Homo sapiens: one gene and its partners. The protein of the gene in region 2 purifies or fractionates together with the protein of the main gene of each other region. This does not show direct contact. Each region holds a gene or a part of one and is shown on either strand. Other genes may lie near its edges.

What was found.
Region 1: the proteins of C1orf115 (region 2) and MKS1 purify together in Homo sapiens (affinity purification with mass spectrometry; one large-scale study listed by BioGRID and IntAct). This does not show direct contact.
Region 3: the proteins of C1orf115 (region 2) and NCS1 purify together in Homo sapiens (affinity purification with mass spectrometry; one large-scale study listed by BioGRID and IntAct). This does not show direct contact.
Region 4: the proteins of C1orf115 (region 2) and RIOK1 purify together in Homo sapiens (affinity purification with mass spectrometry; one large-scale study listed by BioGRID and IntAct). This does not show direct contact.
Region 5: the proteins of C1orf115 (region 2) and CLNS1A purify together in Homo sapiens (affinity purification with mass spectrometry; one large-scale study listed by BioGRID and IntAct). This does not show direct contact.

The regions. Positions count from the first base shown.
Region 1 is NC_000017.11:58,204,919-58,207,098, forward strand, and holds the end of MKS1 (tectonic-like complex member MKS1), read right to left. Parts: coding exon 2,167-2,180; intron 1,630-2,166; coding exon 1,547-1,629; intron 1,463-1,546; coding exon 1,365-1,462; intron 1,253-1,364; coding exon 1,161-1,252; coding exon of another isoform or gene 1,072-1,160; 3' UTR 523-1,071; downstream 1-522. UniProt on the Homo sapiens protein: Component of the tectonic-like complex, a complex localized at the transition zone of primary cilia and acting as a barrier that prevents diffusion of transmembrane proteins between the cilia and plasma membranes.
Region 2 is NC_000001.11:220,693,341-220,696,507, reverse strand, and holds part of C1orf115 (required for drug-induced death protein 1), read right to left. Parts: intron 1-3,167. UniProt on the Homo sapiens protein: Regulates drug efflux through modulation of ABCB1 localization and activity.
Region 3 is NC_000009.12:130,178,901-130,182,422, reverse strand, and holds part of NCS1 (neuronal calcium sensor 1), read right to left. Parts: intron 1-3,522. UniProt on the Homo sapiens protein: Neuronal calcium sensor, regulator of G protein-coupled receptor phosphorylation in a calcium dependent manner. Directly regulates GRK1 (RHOK), but not GRK2 to GRK5. Can substitute for calmodulin. Stimulates PI4KB kinase activity.
Region 4 is NC_000006.12:7,396,291-7,399,812, reverse strand, and holds part of RIOK1 (serine/threonine-protein kinase RIO1), read right to left. Parts: intron 3,111-3,522; coding exon 3,041-3,110; intron 1,116-3,040; coding exon 1,073-1,115; intron 1-1,072. UniProt on the Homo sapiens protein: Involved in the final steps of cytoplasmic maturation of the 40S ribosomal subunit. Involved in processing of 18S-E pre-rRNA to the mature 18S rRNA. Required for the recycling of NOB1 and PNO1 from the late 40S precursor.
Region 5 is NC_000011.10:77,624,277-77,627,798, forward strand, and holds part of CLNS1A (methylosome subunit pICln), read right to left. Parts: intron 1,543-3,522; coding exon 1,441-1,542; intron 795-1,440; coding exon 687-794; intron 1-686. UniProt on the Homo sapiens protein: Involved in both the assembly of spliceosomal snRNPs and the methylation of Sm proteins.

The DNA of each region.
Region 1 (2,180 bases), on a different chromosome or scaffold from region 2:
GCCTCTTAGGTATTAGGCTATGAATCAGCGCCACGTGCAAAGGCTTGGGAGCCAAGCCATGTGGTCTTGCACCCCAGGCAAGAAAAGTCAGCTGGAGGGTTTACAGCACTTTCTACTGTTTCCCAGCCCTCCCTCCCCTCCCTCACCATGACTAAGAGACCACTCGGTCCTAGCCTCCAGACACCCCACAATACTCCTCTGAGCCTGAGGCCAGGCAGCATGCTCTGCTTCTACCAATAAAGCACTGCTAAGGGCAGGGGCTGCTGTTTCTGTGTTGGGCTAGGGAAGACGTGGCCTCAGTTCCATGCTTTGCTCCAGATGTTTAAGAGAAGTGCTGTTAACACGCAAGCTGGCACAACCATCTAAGCCTCTCCTGGGGGCTGAATTAGGAGAGCCCAAAGAAACACTGTGGAGTAGGGAAAGGCAGAAAAGGGGAAGGGCAGACATGGTAGGGGCCCCGACATTAAGAACACCCTAGCCATACCAGCAACCTGAGCAGACAAACAGCCAACAGAACATCAGTCAAAATAAAAGGGGTTTATGTAACAAAAAACAAAAAAACAAACAAACAAAAAAACACAGTAAAAGATACCACCCAGCTAGCAGAAAGGACTCAGCACTGCCTTCAGCCTTCACTTACTCAGAAATAACTCATATCTCAACCTCAGCAAGCCCCAAGCAGTAGAATGAGGCTTCCCTGGAAAGAGGCTGAGACTCACAGGCTGGGGATTTAAGACCCTCTCACCGTCCACCTTCCTTCCTTCTTTGGTCTTGGAAGATGAAAGGCTCCATTTTTAAAGGGTGGAGAACAGCAGATCCCCTGCTACTGTGAGACAAGCCAGAAAAGTGAGTCAAGGCCAGACTCACTATGGGGTCACCCCAAACAGCTTCAGATCAAAAAGCCTGCCTTGCTGTGATGCCCATTGACAGTGGCTGCAAATATAAAGGGGGGGCCACAGGGTCTCTGGCTTTATTTCCACAGGGTAGGGAGAAGACCCTGCAGAAGGCTAGGCAGAGGGGCCAGCCGGGAATTTCCCAGCTTTTCTGGTTCTCAGCAGACCAACGTGGTCTCTAATCAGAAAGACGAAGAGGCAGGAGAGCACTGGCCTCAGATATCCCCCATCTTGTCCTCTTGCACTGTGGGCCAGGGCTGCTGTGAGCTAGGAGACCAGGGTTCCAGAGGGGCTCACTAGGTCCTGCGGGAGGCTTTCCCGGGCCTCCTGCATGCGGCGCCGGGCTCGACGGAAGGCCTCTGTAAGGAAAGGAGATATGCTATTTGGCTGCCATATGGTATTTCTCTCTGCACTGCAGAGAGAAACAGGCCCATGCTGACCTGGGGTGGCCAGCTGGGGGAGGGGACATACCTAGCACATTGTGAATGGAACTCTGCTGGCTGAACCCTTCCAGACGGTCCAACACACTCCGCATCCTTTTCTGAAGGGAGCTCGATTCCATGAAGGCCCTGCAGGGAGGCCAGCCACATGGTTACGGCTGTCTCCACCCCTCAGGGCTAAGGTGCCCTGAGGCAGAGGGCCAAGTCACTCACCTGGACTGCTGCAGACAGTGCAAGCGGAAGGTGACAGTGCCTGTGGTCTCTGTGCGGAGTCCAAAGCGGCTCAGGCGTTCCCCCTGTGGCATGCCATTGGGACAGCCTCAGGTTTCTGCTCTCTCTAGACACCCCCGCACCATGCTGGCCTCACCCCCATTCTTATTCCCATTCTTGGGAAGCGCAGTTCTGTTGGGGAAACCTTATTCCATCACCCAGACTCTATTACCTCAAGGCTAATACTGGGCTATTGGGCTCCCCCAACTAAACCAGGGAACATTCCAACCTCATTTGAGAAGCGGCGGTCTTATATGCTTACTGTGAATCCTCCCCACATCTGATTACTGAGGCCTTCAGTGATGGGGGAAAGAGCCAGTTATTCTGATGGGAACCAGGGGAAATCTCTAATTATACTATTTTCCAGAGACCTCCTACGATAGCAGTGTAGATATTGGAACCTGATTCAAAATGTGGTCATGACTTCCAGCTTAAGCCACAGGAAGGAAGGGGTTAATACTGAAGCAATGCACAACTAAGGGGTCTTGACCCAGATCCCACCTCCTACAGAAGGACAGGACCATAAGTTCTCAGCGTGAAGTCACTCCAAAGACAAAAGTCACCTTGAAGGATCCTG
Region 2 (3,167 bases):
TCATTTTTCCTGATTCTCTTGTGACAAATCAGCAAGTTACCACATTCCCACATCTCTGGTGGAAGGTGCCCACCTCCAGCCTAAGAATATGTAGCGGCTCACAGCAGACATCATCACCTTGCAAAGTGCTTTCAAGCACAGCTTATTTCCAGATAATTCAAAGACCTTCTTGGAAACAGCAGTAAGGCTGCTAATTCTAAAACTAAAGCAGTTTTATTTTGTTTTTTAAACCAAAGATCACTCCTCTTCTCTGTTCCAGCTAAAAATTACTGGACCGTCAGAAGGCTGGGTTAAGTTTTCCTTCCTTCACCTTATCTGAAAGCCCATCTTCTCCTCCTTCTACCTCAATGGCATATTTCTGTCTGACCCACACATCTGTCCTTTTGTAGTCTTCTGCCATTTTCTAATTGCTATATCTATGTAAGTCCAGCATTTCCAATACCATTATAAGCTCCCTGATGGTCAGGCTTGGGCAATGCTTTCTTGGTAACCACTCCTCCTCTTCCTTTTCTACAAGGCTGGGTAGGGGACATTCAGGGAATGTCAGGTGCTAGACAGGGGACATCTAAAGGACTCAAATGTGATTGCAACAGAAAAATTACCACCACCACCACCAAACATTTATTGCACGGCTGCCCATGGTCTTCCCCTCCGTACCTCAACTTCTGTCATCACTCTTGGTGATATCAATGTCCATGCAGATAACCTGTGCCTTAGGCCACATACCTTGTCTCTCAGTCCTTTGACTTTTCCATATTACCATAACCACTCAGACTGGTTTAACTTAAAATTCCTGATCACAATCACATATCTCACCTTGACTTCCAACACCACCTGACAAACCTCCACATCTGTCCAGTAGGATGAATTTCTCTCTCCCCCGGGTACTGCCTCATACCTTTTCCCTTCTTAAGCCTCCCCACTTGCAACACACACGAACACACCCAAGTCTCCATACCTTCATGAGATGATCCCACTTCACCTTTCACAGAAAAAAAAAAAAAAAAAAAAAACCCAGACATCGTCAGGGAACACGTTCACCTTCCACCACTCTCAACAGCCCTGCCTGTGGCTGCCCCTGGCTTCTCCCGCATTGCCTGTGTTACGGTGGAGAAAGTGGTCTTCTTCCCCCAAGCCATTCCCTTGATACTTGGTGTCAGTGCCTTCTCCCACCTTGATCTTGGCTTTCCCTTCACCACCTCCATCATTCGCTTCCTCTCCATTGGATCCCATTAGCTTACATACATGCTCGGGTATCACCGTGACTCCATATCCTGCCCCAGTCTCTGCCCTCCATCGTGCCAAGCCAGCCAAAAGAGCCAACCACATATACTGCCTCCATGTCTGCGCTTCTTATTCCCTCTGACTCCGGCTCCTACCCCAACCCATGAGGGACTGTCTGGTCATGGCCATCTACAACCCCCATGCTGCCTGACCCAGTGGACGCTTTTCTGTCTTTCTCTCCCTGACCTCTCAGCAGCTTTTGACATACTTTATGAAATAATCATGTGGCGTCTTTGACTCCATATTCTTAGTTCTCCCCTACCTAAATAGGGAGCTCCTCCTCAGCTTTCTTTGCTAAATTATCCCTTCTACCAGACTTTAAAATGTTGGTGTTGTTCAATACTCAGTCCTGGGTCTTTCCTTCTCTCTTTCTTTCCCTACAGTCTCTCCTTAGATGGTCTCATCCATTTCTAATGACTACAAGTATCTCCTAGATTTGAAGAACTCTTTAGTTCAGACTCAAATATTCAATTCGTTACTTGAGATCTCCACTTTTTGAAGACCCCACAATTCCTCTGGCATGCACTCTCCCTTGTAGCCCTAAGCACATAAACCTAACGTGGATTGGCTACTGGCATGTCCCTGGTGGCCTTTGTCTATCAGACTTCAATCATTCAAAGCACAGAGAGATTACATCTGTCCACATGTATATATCTGGTTAGGGGCAGAGCTGAAGTTCAATCCCAAAGAAATCTCACTTCAGGGCCTATGACCTTAACCCCCATACTATGTTTCCCTTTTTAAATAAAGGCAATATGTAAGCTTCTAGTTAACCACTCATGCCCTGGGCTTGAATTCCAACTCTATCACTTACTTAATTTCCCATGGCCTCGGTTTCCTCACCTATACAATGGGAATATTTAGTAACCACCTCATTGGGTTGTTAAGAGGAGTAAATGAGATCATGTAAGCAAAGCACTGAGAACAGGGCCTGGCACAAACTGCAGGCAGTATAAGTGCCCCCCAATGTCAGCTATTATTACTGCTAAATAACATCTGCTTCTTTTGATTACATAGCAATTTAGGTTTGTGGTGGTGATAGATAAACCCAATATTTTTGTTGTCTGTTTGGGAAAGTTTCTTAAGACTATAATTTCCTATGACTTCTGGCTTACTTGAGCTTTTTTTTTTTTTTTTTTTTTTGAGACCGCGTTTTGCTCTTGTTGCCCAGTCTGGAGTGCAATGGCGCGATCTCAGCTCACTGCAACCTCCACCTCCCAGGTTCAAGCGATTCTCCTGCTGCAGCCTCCCAAGTAGCTGGGATTATAGGCATGCACCACCGCGCCAGGCTAATCTTTTTGTATTTTTAGTAGAGACAGGGTTCACCATGTTCGTCAGTCTGGTTTCCAGCTCCTGACCTCAGGTGATCCACCCGCCTCAGCCTCCCAAAGTGCTGGGATTACATGTGTGAGCCACCACACCCAGCTGAGCTTTCAATAGTTTAAATTACAGGGTCCCTCACAGTAACAGAAGGAGGGCAGGGACTCTGTTGTGCTCATTACTGTATCCTGAGCATGTAGAAAGAGGCTGAGTGTTTCCTTTGGTACCTCTCCCGCTAAATGAGGAGCTTTGCAAGAACCAAGTAATGTCTGTGTCTTCTCTAGACACTGCTTTCCTGGACATTACCCTGTTGATGTCTCAAAGAGACACTGGGCTGGGGCATGCGCATGTGTGGGTATGTGATGTTGCTAAGAGATACAGTTCTTTAAATGTGTGATAAGAATCACTGGGGGAATTTTACTTACATGTTTGAAACAACAAAAGAAAAACATATTCTCTGGGAACAAGCTTAACAATCAAGAGTGATCCATTATAAACAAGATCAGAATGACAATCGCCTGCATTAAACGTGACATTTTTGGTATTTGTACATCCATTTTGCT
Region 3 (3,522 bases), on a different chromosome or scaffold from region 2:
ATGCCTGGCCAGTGTCTGATGCTCCAGCAGCGGCTTGGATGCTCCCAGGGACTGGGCGCTCCCTCCCCTTGGCAGGGAACTCCAAGGTTTTGAGGCTCACAGAGACGGTGGGAGGCAGGCGCCGGGTGGGAAGGGCGTGGCTCTGGCAACATAAAGATCTAAGCCTGAACCCCGACTGGCCATCGATTGGCTGGCTGGGGGGACTTGGGCGTGTCCCTGAACTTGCCTGGGCCTCCCTTTCCTCATCTGTAAAATGGGTATAAGGGTCCCTACTCCCAGGGCTTTGGGGAGAGGGCAGCACTCAGCACTCCTGGTCCCGAGTGCCCACTGGGTAAACGGTGGTCGTCATTGCTGTCATCTCCCCCCAACCACAATACTCCCCTACTGCCTTGGGGAGTGGCAGCTTATCACCTGGTTCCAGACCTGGCAGCTGAGCTCCCAGCCTTTGGCGCGGCTCCCGGCCTGTCTGTGCCTCCCTCCCCAGCGTCCCCCACCCCCAGGCACACCTACATTTACAACCTGTACAGAGCTGCCCTCACACACCACCACACGCGTGCGCACAGGAGTGCCCGGCTCACCCACTCCTGACACACGCCATGACCCCGTCACTCACGCTCGGAGCGTGCCCACGTGAATCGGGACTTGCCCACGTGCCCCGCAGCACCCGCCCTGCCTGCAACACCCACACCAGGCACCCGGGCCCGCTCACGCTCACCTGCACACCTCCATGGCGGCTCCCTGGCACCTCCACCAAGCAGGGGCCCCTCACCGCGGCCCAGGGCTTCAGTGTGCAGACTCCAGGCTGAGAGGGGACGGGGATCAGACCCCAATGGCACCACTCTCCAGCCGTGGGACCATGAGCCAGCTCTCATCCACTCTGAGCCTCCATTTCCTCATCTGTAAAAAGGGGACCCCCACAGGGCTCCTGGGTGGAATTGGTGAGGAACACACGTGAACACCAAGGACAGGCCTGGGTCACACGGAACATGCCTAATACCAGATTCTCACCGCAGTGACAGCCCCTGACCGTCCCGTGCTGCAGCTCGCAGATCCTCCACCACCACCAGGAGCAAAAGGAGGGCCGAGATGAGCCGCCAAGTTCAACGTCTGTTATTCCTAACCCCGCACACGGCTCTGTGTAGTAGAAGTCCCTTATCCCCAACCCCCAGATAAGAAAACTAAGGTATCGAGAGGCTAAGAACCATGCCTGAGGCTGAGAAGATCCAAGGGCCTGGGTCTTGAACACCACAGCCCAAGCACACTCCGTCCCTGGGGCCCTGACGTACCTTCCCCACTGGGTCTCACTATCTGGGAATTTGAACATGGTACAGAAAGGGAAACTGAGTCCCAGAGGGAACTAGTGACTCCAAAGCCACTGTCCAGGCCATGATGGTCCTGGGACTTAATCCCAGGCAGGCTGCTGTCCATCCTCTGAGCCCCTGGGCGCACAGGAGCCTAAAAGCCAGCCTGCCACAACCCTTCTCCCTCCCCAACTCACCAAGCCAGGAGCCAGACACAGAACAATCCGGCCACCAACCCAGCCGGGCCACCACAGAGGCCCTCCATGTTTGCCACTCGCTCCCAATTCAGCCAAGAGCCTGTGACAGCTCACTCTGTGATTGCCCAGGGGAGTGGCCAAGAACGGCTGTCCCTGATACAGCCGGTCCAGCAGCCTCCTTCCTGGGAGAGCATTTACTGAGCACCTACTACGTGCAGATCCCTGTGCAAACATCCCTGTCTCATGCGCAAGGGACCTCAGAGCTCAGAGACGTAAGGAGCTGGCCAGGATTGCCCAGCCAGGAAACAGCAGAACTGACCTTCAAGTCCTCAGCACCTGCCGTTCTGCCCTTGGTCAGAATATGACCCCAATCTCAAGTTACCTAGAAACGCCGCAACGTAATCTCTGACACTCTCTGCCCTGCAAAATAGATCACACACAGAATGTGAAAATTGATTCATCTTGTTATGACCATAATGATGATGTGCTTTTTAATTTATATTGGCTTTTTTTCTTACCAGAGTGCTAGAGATATCTGGGGCAAGATGAACCCCAGCAGAAGACCTCAGTGAAGAAGTCAAGACATCCCTAGGCCAGGCGTGGTGGCTCACGCCTGTAATCCCAGCACTTTGGGAGGCCAAGGTGGGTGCACCACTTGAGGCTAGGAGTTTGAGACCAACCTGGCCAAAATGGCAAGACCCCATCTCCACTAAAAATACAAAAATTAGCCAGGTGTGGTGGTGCACATTCTAATACGAGCTACTCAGGAGGCTGAGGCAGGAGAACAGCTTGAACCCGGGAGGTGGCGATTATAGTGAGCCGAGATCGCGCCACTGCACTCTAGCCTGGGTGACGGAAGTGAGATTCCATCTCGATAGATAGATAGATAGATAGATAGATAGATAGATAGATAGATAGATAGATAGATAAAAAGAAGGCAAGACATCCCTATCTGAACCCCAACAGCCAACTCACCTTGGCACAGTGGGAGGTGCCCTGACAGGAACAAAGCAGTTCCTGCCACATATTTGCTGTGTGACCTTGGGGAAGATGCTTCACCTTTCTGGCGCTTAATTTGCCTACTTGTAAAATGAGGGCATTGAACTACTTGGCCCCAAGAGTCTCCTCCAGCTGAAAGATACTAGGATTCTATTTCATAGTATTCAAAGAAATAAATGTTGACACAGTGAGCCACCTCTTTTCCTCCCCATAAAATTGGCAAGAAGTAAGGAAAACAGTAATACCCAGTGCTGGCAAGAATGCAGAGAAATAGGCACTCTCTCATCTACTTTTGCTGAAAATGTAAACTGGAACAGCCTTTCTGGAGAGCAATTCAACAATTTTTAATCAAAAGCCTTTCAAAACATCCCCAGCCTTTTAACTCCATAACCCCGTTCTGGGTTCTTATCTTCAAGAAAAGATAAGTGCAAAGATTTAGTGCAAAGACATTCATGCAAAGATGTGGTACAAAGATGTTCATCTCAGTATTTTCAATATGGGAGGAGGAAGCTAACTGTCCAATGACAGGAGATTAAATAAAATATGTTCTGTCCATATGATGCACCATGAAAAAAAATCATGCTCTAAAAGCATAGTTCATGATACGGGCAAACATTCAGAATGGTCAGGTTTTTTTAAGTCAGAAAATAAAAAGTAGATAATCCCAAATTTACAAGGTAATGAAAACTATGAGTCCAGGGACAGCGGCTCATGCCTGTAATCCCAGCACTTTGGGAGGCCAAGGTGAGTGAATCACCTGAGGTCAGGAGTTCGAGACCAGCCTGACCAATATGGTGAAACCCCGTCTCTACTAAAAATACAAAAATTAGCTGGGAGTGGTGGCGGATGCCTGTAATCCCCTACTCGGGAGGCTGAGACAGGAGATTTGCTTGAACCCGGGAGGTGGAGATTGCAGTAAGCCAAGATCGTGCCACCGTACTCCAGCCTGGGTGACAGAGTAAGACTCTGTTTCAAAAAAAAAAAGAGGAGGGAAGGGGAGGGAAGGGGAGGGAAGGGGAGGGGAG
Region 4 (3,522 bases), on a different chromosome or scaffold from region 2:
AGAATGAAAAGGCACTAGTTTCCATTTCTTCTCTACTGCACAGGTAAGCAAAGAGGGGAAGTCAGCTGGCTGAGTATGGGCCTCTAGGTACAGAACTGTGCTTCTGCGAAGTTGGCAGTTAGACAAGTCAGGGGCATAGGAAGAAGTAACAAACCAGATGGCTTAAGAACAAAACAGGGAAAGAGAAATGATAAATTTACACACAAGCATATATTTTATATAGACAGCTGAAGACTCCAGCTATGTACTCTATCATTCAAAATTAATTTTGAAAGAGAAAAAGAATTTCCTGCCAAAAATAACCCTAAAGTTATTTAGGGTCTTTGAAACTTAAGGCTATCTCATTTTTCCGAGGTGAACCATACTTTGTTTTCAATTACAGAAATAAATCACAAAATAAACTAGGGGACAATGAAGACACAGACCACAGACCCGGCTTCTGTCTAATGGTGGAATTCAGAACATGTGCTTGTGTATATGGGAGGGGGTGGTGGAAAGGAGTGGTAGGTGGCAGAGGCAAATGTTCTGACTCTTTTTATCACTTTCTTCACATCAAAAATCTGGGCCAAGGCTAATATCCAATCACATTCTTCGGAATGTGGGAAAATTAGGGGCCAATTTTTCCCCATTCTTGAATAGAAAGAATAAAACAAGCATAATTTCTAAACAAAGGATTCCTAACTGGAAATTTGAAGACATTATCTGCCCCTCTCTCTTTTACACCCACACTTCCTGCTTTGTGGCAGATACCCTACCTATCTTCTGGGAAAGCTCACAAAATTCCTACGGACCTTTTCTAAAAGATTGCTGGTCTGATAATCTCTCCAAGAAGGGAAAGCATCGCATGGTGGCTCTGCAAGGCCACTGAAGGACCATGACTCTAATTCATCCAATAGTCCTATAAAAGCAAGATGTAGGTCTCTAAACTCGAAACTATAAAAAGGAATAATTTTATATAGGAGTAATTTTAGGTAACATTAGCATTAAGCAAAAAGGATAAAAGCAAACTACAATTCAAAGAGAGAAGAAATGCTAATTAAAAAGAAGAGTTTGCAACACATTTAAATTGTACCTGTTCTACAGTTGCTCTGTCTGCCTTATCTTTGATGCGATACCTAACCAAAAACAAAAACGTATAGTTGACACATTCAAAATTCAGTGAGAAGCCAAAATCTTCTAAATGTAGATAATTTCATGAAAATTCCTAAGTAGGTAGTTTCTCTAAATAACAGATTTTATGATATGATTGTAGATTTTTCATTACTCAGTGAAACTTTCTTCATTTCCCCTGAATACCAAAATTCAATTCTGTATTTTGGCAAAAGGAGTATGTATACAGTAAAAAGAAAAATCTATTCCTATTTCAGAAGCATCAAAGAGCCGCCAGGGTAAAGTGAACTATGCTGAAAAAGAGAAAACATTGAGTATATTTGTACTGTCCTTCACATCTTTAATGATTCTGTTAGCACACAATTAAAGTCTTGTCTTCTTTTTTTTTTTTAAAGAGACAGCATCTTACTATGTTGCCCAGGCTAGGCATAGACTCCTGGGCTCAAGTATTCCTCCTGCCCCAGCCTCCACATAGAGTTAGTCATTTACAAGGCTTTCTGTTTAGAGGCATTTTCTAAGAAGATACAAGTTTTTTTGTTTTTGTTTTTGTTTGTTTGTTTTGAGATGGAGTCTCGCTCTGTCGCCCAGGCTGGAGTGCAGTGGCACGATCTCGGCTCACTGCAAGCTCTGCCTCCCGGGTTCACGCCATTCTCCTGCCTCAGCCTCCCGAGTAGCTGGGACTACAGGCGCCCGCCGCCAAGCCCGGCTAATTTTTTTGTATTTTTAGTAGAGACAGGATTTCACCTTGTTAGCCAAGATGGTCTCGATCTCCTGACCTTGTGATCCGCCCGCCTCTGCCTCCCAAAGTGCTGGGATTACAGGCGTGAGCCACTGCACCTGGCAGTTTTGTTTTTTAAAATCGTTTCAAGACAGTATTCAAATGCAGACTCTGATTTGCTTCTGCTTATACACTGAGTGACTCCACCTAGCACACTAACCTAAACTAATAAAGGTTTAAACACAAAGATTCAAACAGATACCAGTGAAATAACAAATAACTATGGTGTATCTCAAAAAGCTGATACCTCTTGGACATAGCAATAAATTGGAAGAAAGCTGGCTTTTACGTTCAATTCTCACAGTTAGTTGTATGATCTTAGTGTCGTTTTCTATAATATAGTGATAATACTTTAGAGTTATTAGCATATAAGAGAAGTTATTCAGATCTTAAACAATTGGCTTTGAGAACAGAAGTGTAAACAGAAACAGTTCTCAGTTATATCATTAGTTCATAGTCTTCCCTTAAATTTTTAAAAATACTTCATGGGAAAGAATAATTCTTAATAAATTTTAAGGGAACATTTTTGCACATTTTAGTTTAAACTGAAATCTACAAACACTGTTCCCCTCATAAGAACACATTTGTAAATTTCATGAGATTACACTTTTACCATGTATTTCTTAAAATTCATTAATTTTTATTTTATGTATTTATTTTTGAGATGGAGTCTCGCTCTGTGGCCCAGGCTGGAGTGCAGTGGCACGATCTTGGCTCACTGCAACCTCCACCTCCCAGGTTCAAGAGATTCTCACACCTCAGCCTCCTGAGTAGCTGGGATTACAGGCGTGCACCACCATGTCTGGCTAATTTTTGTATTTTTTGTACAGACATGGTTTCACCATGTTGGCCAGGCTGGTCTCAAACTCCTGGCCTCAAGTGATCCCCACAGCTCGGCCTTCTGAAGTGATGGGATTACAGGCATGAGCCACCACACCCAGCCAAGATTCATTAATATTTTTAATTCACAAAGGCATAGGTTATCCTAATTTAAGCTAAGGAAAACACACACACACACACACACACACACACCAAAATAATGATTGGTTTAAGTATACAAATGAACATCCTCTGTAAAAGAATTATGATCAAGGTGCTGCTTAATCTAGATTAGTCCTTATCACCCATGCATATTATTAAAATATTACTTACATATCTGCTTCCTTTTGTCTAGACTTTTCGGTGACTTTATTTATGACGGAATCAGTAACATTTAGCTTATCTAAAATACAAGAAACCCACAATGTAAACAATATGTAAGACGAAAAGACATTAACAGAGTTGCTGAACAGGGTATTTCTCCCCTCTTCCTTCTCTTCTACACTTTCTAAATGTTTTATTGTAAATAGAATACAGTTTAGTAATGAAAACAATGTAATGTTTTTAAAAGTAGGCACTAAACTGCGTTTCCTTCGTAAGTGTCACTTTCATCACTACAGCTATAATATTTGAGCCACAGAATTCTAGATGCAGAAATTCTTCAAAGATAATAATTTGCATAATAAATTTCAGACACTTGCTAGTACTCCACATGACTAATAAAACTGCCTGAATTTCAAGTTTAATTCTAAAAACTTGTTTCACTTCAAGTTATAAGTCTATGATAGGCAAAGAAGGCCCTAAAATACTTATAT
Region 5 (3,522 bases), on a different chromosome or scaffold from region 2:
GTAATAATAAAACAATATAAATGATCCAGGTTCTCAAGGTGTAGAGAGAGAAGCTTGTTCTCTGGGGGCAGCTGCCTCAGCTTAAAAGACTTTCCTGACCATCCACTTCCCTATCTACCATTTTCTTTCCTCCCATATGCTCTACTTACCCATTCTTCCCCATAACAATCTCTATTTCTTACACTCAAAAATTTGTCTGTTGCAAAGGGCTTTGGCATAAAGTGTTCTACCGTGTCATTCTATTTTAATAATAATCTTACCAGCCAGGCACAGTGGCTCACACCTGTAATCCCAGCACTTTGGGAGGCCGAGGCAGGCGGATCACCTGAGGTCGGGAGTTCAAGACCAGCCTGACCAACATGGAGAAACCCCATCTCTACTAAAAATACAAAATTAGCCTGGCGTGGTGGCGCATGCCTGTAATCCCAGCTACTTGGAAGGCTGAGGCAGGAGAATCGCTTGAACCTAGGAGGCAGAGGTTGCAGTGAGCCGAGACCACGCCATTGCACTCCAGCCTGGGCAACAAAAGCGAAAACTCCATCTCAAAAATAATAATAATAATTTTACCATACTGCATACTTTACAGTCATATAAAGAACTATAATCCTCTACCCTTAATACAAATAAATGCTTAAAATGAAACACTAAACAAACAAAAAACCCACTTTAAAATCCATTTCACTAACCATGTGCTTCCACATCATATTCTTCTCCATCGTAGTCATCTGAATCCTCATCCTCAGGATCTGGATGCAAGGCCTGGCATTCGCACATTGCAGTGAACATTGCCTCCACTGAACAAGGAAATTAAACTGTAACCAATCTTTTTTTGTAATAAAAGTAACCATCAGTGCAAATAAATTTAATGGGTACACAAAACGCCACAGTATTTACAAAATCTGCCAAATTGTAAGATCAATCTTGAAAGCGGTTGAAGCAAAAGACAAGTCATAAAATAATAAGAGTTCATTATGAGAGATCATTGCAATCTCTTCATGGCTCGTGGGATTTTCCAAGAAAAAAGGGTCAGAGTCCTGGTAAGACTGCTGGCATCAGGGTGAAGGGTGAAGACTGCTCTCAGCTGATAGGGCTCTTTCCAGCCATCCTGAGATCTTCCACTTTAAAACTGCCATAACTCCTCTGCCATCCAGCAGGTGAGATTAAGTCAACAGCACCAATCAGTAAAACTAACCAGAGTCCACTCACAAAATATACCCAGATGACAGAGTGTCTACAATATTCTCACTACATTCACAACCTTTGATATTAATAGGTATTTGGTCCTTAATGATATTACCAATGCTAAAATAAAGAAAAAGCAATAGAATGGAGGTAATGGTGGTAAAGGTGAGAGGTGTGTGTGTGTGTGTATGTGTGTGTGTGTCAATTGGGAATGCTTGGTATGTAAAAGGGGAAGAATCAATACTGTAGAACACTCACACGCTGATTTATCACTAGGCACAAATCTAAATTCAGTAATAGGTTCAACATCATCATCACTGTCTTCCTCTTCTTCATCAGCAACAGGTTCTTTTGATTCTTCTAGAAAATAAAATACCCTTTTAATGTCATTATTTGACTTTAAAAAAATGAAGCATATTGAAAATCTGAATATTGCAATTCAATTTTAATTTCCAATTATGGTTGACAAATTTATTTCCAATTATGGTTGAAAAATTCTGATTATACAGTGAGCATCCTAGAAAAGCCTTGCCTCGATCTCCTGACCTCGAGATCCACGCACCTTGGCCTCCCAAAGTGCTCCCTCCGCGCCTCACCGGGAATGAATTTTTAAGGTTATTTTTAAGGTAATCTAATCTCATCAACAATGAGCTAAGGGTCAACTTTTTTTTCTGAGACTGGGACTTGTTTTGTTGCCCAGACTGGACACCCTTGCCCTCTCAGGCCCAAGCGATCCTCCCACCTCAGCCTACTAAGCAGCTGGGACTACAGGCACTTGCCACCACACCCTGCTAATTTTTGTTTTTTTGAGATGGGGTCTTACGATGTTGCCCAGGCTGGTCTGAAACTCCTGGGCTCAAGTGATCCTCCTGTCTTGGCCATTCAAAATGCTGGGATTGTGGCTGGGCACGGTGGCTCACGCCTGTAATCCCAGCACTTTGGGAGGCCGAGGTGGGCGGATCACGAGGTCAGGAGTTTGAGTCCAGCCTGGCCAATATGGTGAAACCCCGTCTCTACTAAAAATACAAAAATTAGCAAGGCGTGGTGGCAGGCGCCTATAATCCCAGCTACTCAGGAGGTTGAGGCAGGAGAATCATTTGAACCTGGGAGGTGGAGGTTGCAGTGAGCCAAGATCACAGCATCGCACTCCAGCCTAGGTGACAGGGTGAGACTCCATCACAAAAAAAAAAAATGCTGGGGTTACAGATGTGAGCCACTATGCCCGGTCCTGATGGTCATTTTTTTTTTTTTGAGACGGAGTCTTGCTCTGTCGCCCAGGCTGGACTGCAGTGGTGCCATCTCGGCTCACTGCAAGCTCTGCCTCTTGGGTTCACCCCATTCTCCTGCCTCAGCCTCCTGAGTAGCTGGGACTACAGGCGCCCGCCACCACACCTGGCTAATTTTTTTGTATTTTTTTTAGTAAAGACGGGGTTTCACCGTGTTAGCCAGAATGGTCTTGATCTCCTGACCTCGTGATCCGCCCGCCTCAGCCTCCCAAAGTGCTGGGATTACAGGTGTGAGCCACCGCGCCCAGCCCTGATGGTCATTTTTAAAGAGACTTACAGAGGTATGCCAAAGAGAAAAAAAAAAAACTTAGAGCTTAGAGAATCAGAATGCAAGGAACAAAGGCTGGGAAAATATGATTCAAGCACATGTAATTTATGAGAGGAGTTTAAGATAAAAAGAACTAAAGGGCCAAGCGAGGTGGCTAACGCCTGTAATCCCAGCCCTTTGGGAGGCTGAGGTGGGTGGATCATGAGGTCAGGAGATGGAGAGCATCCTGGCCAACACAGTGAAACCCCAACTCTACTAAAATACAAAAAAAAAAAAATTAGCGGGGCGTGGTGGCGGGAGCCTGTAGTCCCAGCTACTCGGGAGGCTGAGGCAGAAGAATCGCTTGAACCCAGGAGGCAGAGGTTGCAGTGAGTCAAGATCGCATCACTGCACTCCAGCCTGGCGACAGAGCAAGACTCCATCTCAAAAAAAAAGAAAAAAAAAAAAGGAACTGGAGAATTAGTGAAATAAATGTGACCCAGAAAGATACTAATTTCTAGTAAGATAGGAAATCCTGCATATCTTACTAAGAAAGGATTAATCATAATCACATCAATTACAACCAATCATATAGATTCTGTATGATTATAGAGCACATATTTAAAACACACACCCTAAAACCTACTGAACTGCTTTTTCCTAGTTTAGGACTCAGAGCATTTGCATTTTAAACAAGCTTCCCATGTATTTCTAATGTGTATCCATTAGTCTTGAGTTTGGGAACAAGAGACTAATATACTCCCTTAACTTTTTGGATGAAATTCAGGCTCAGAGAAATGCAAATGA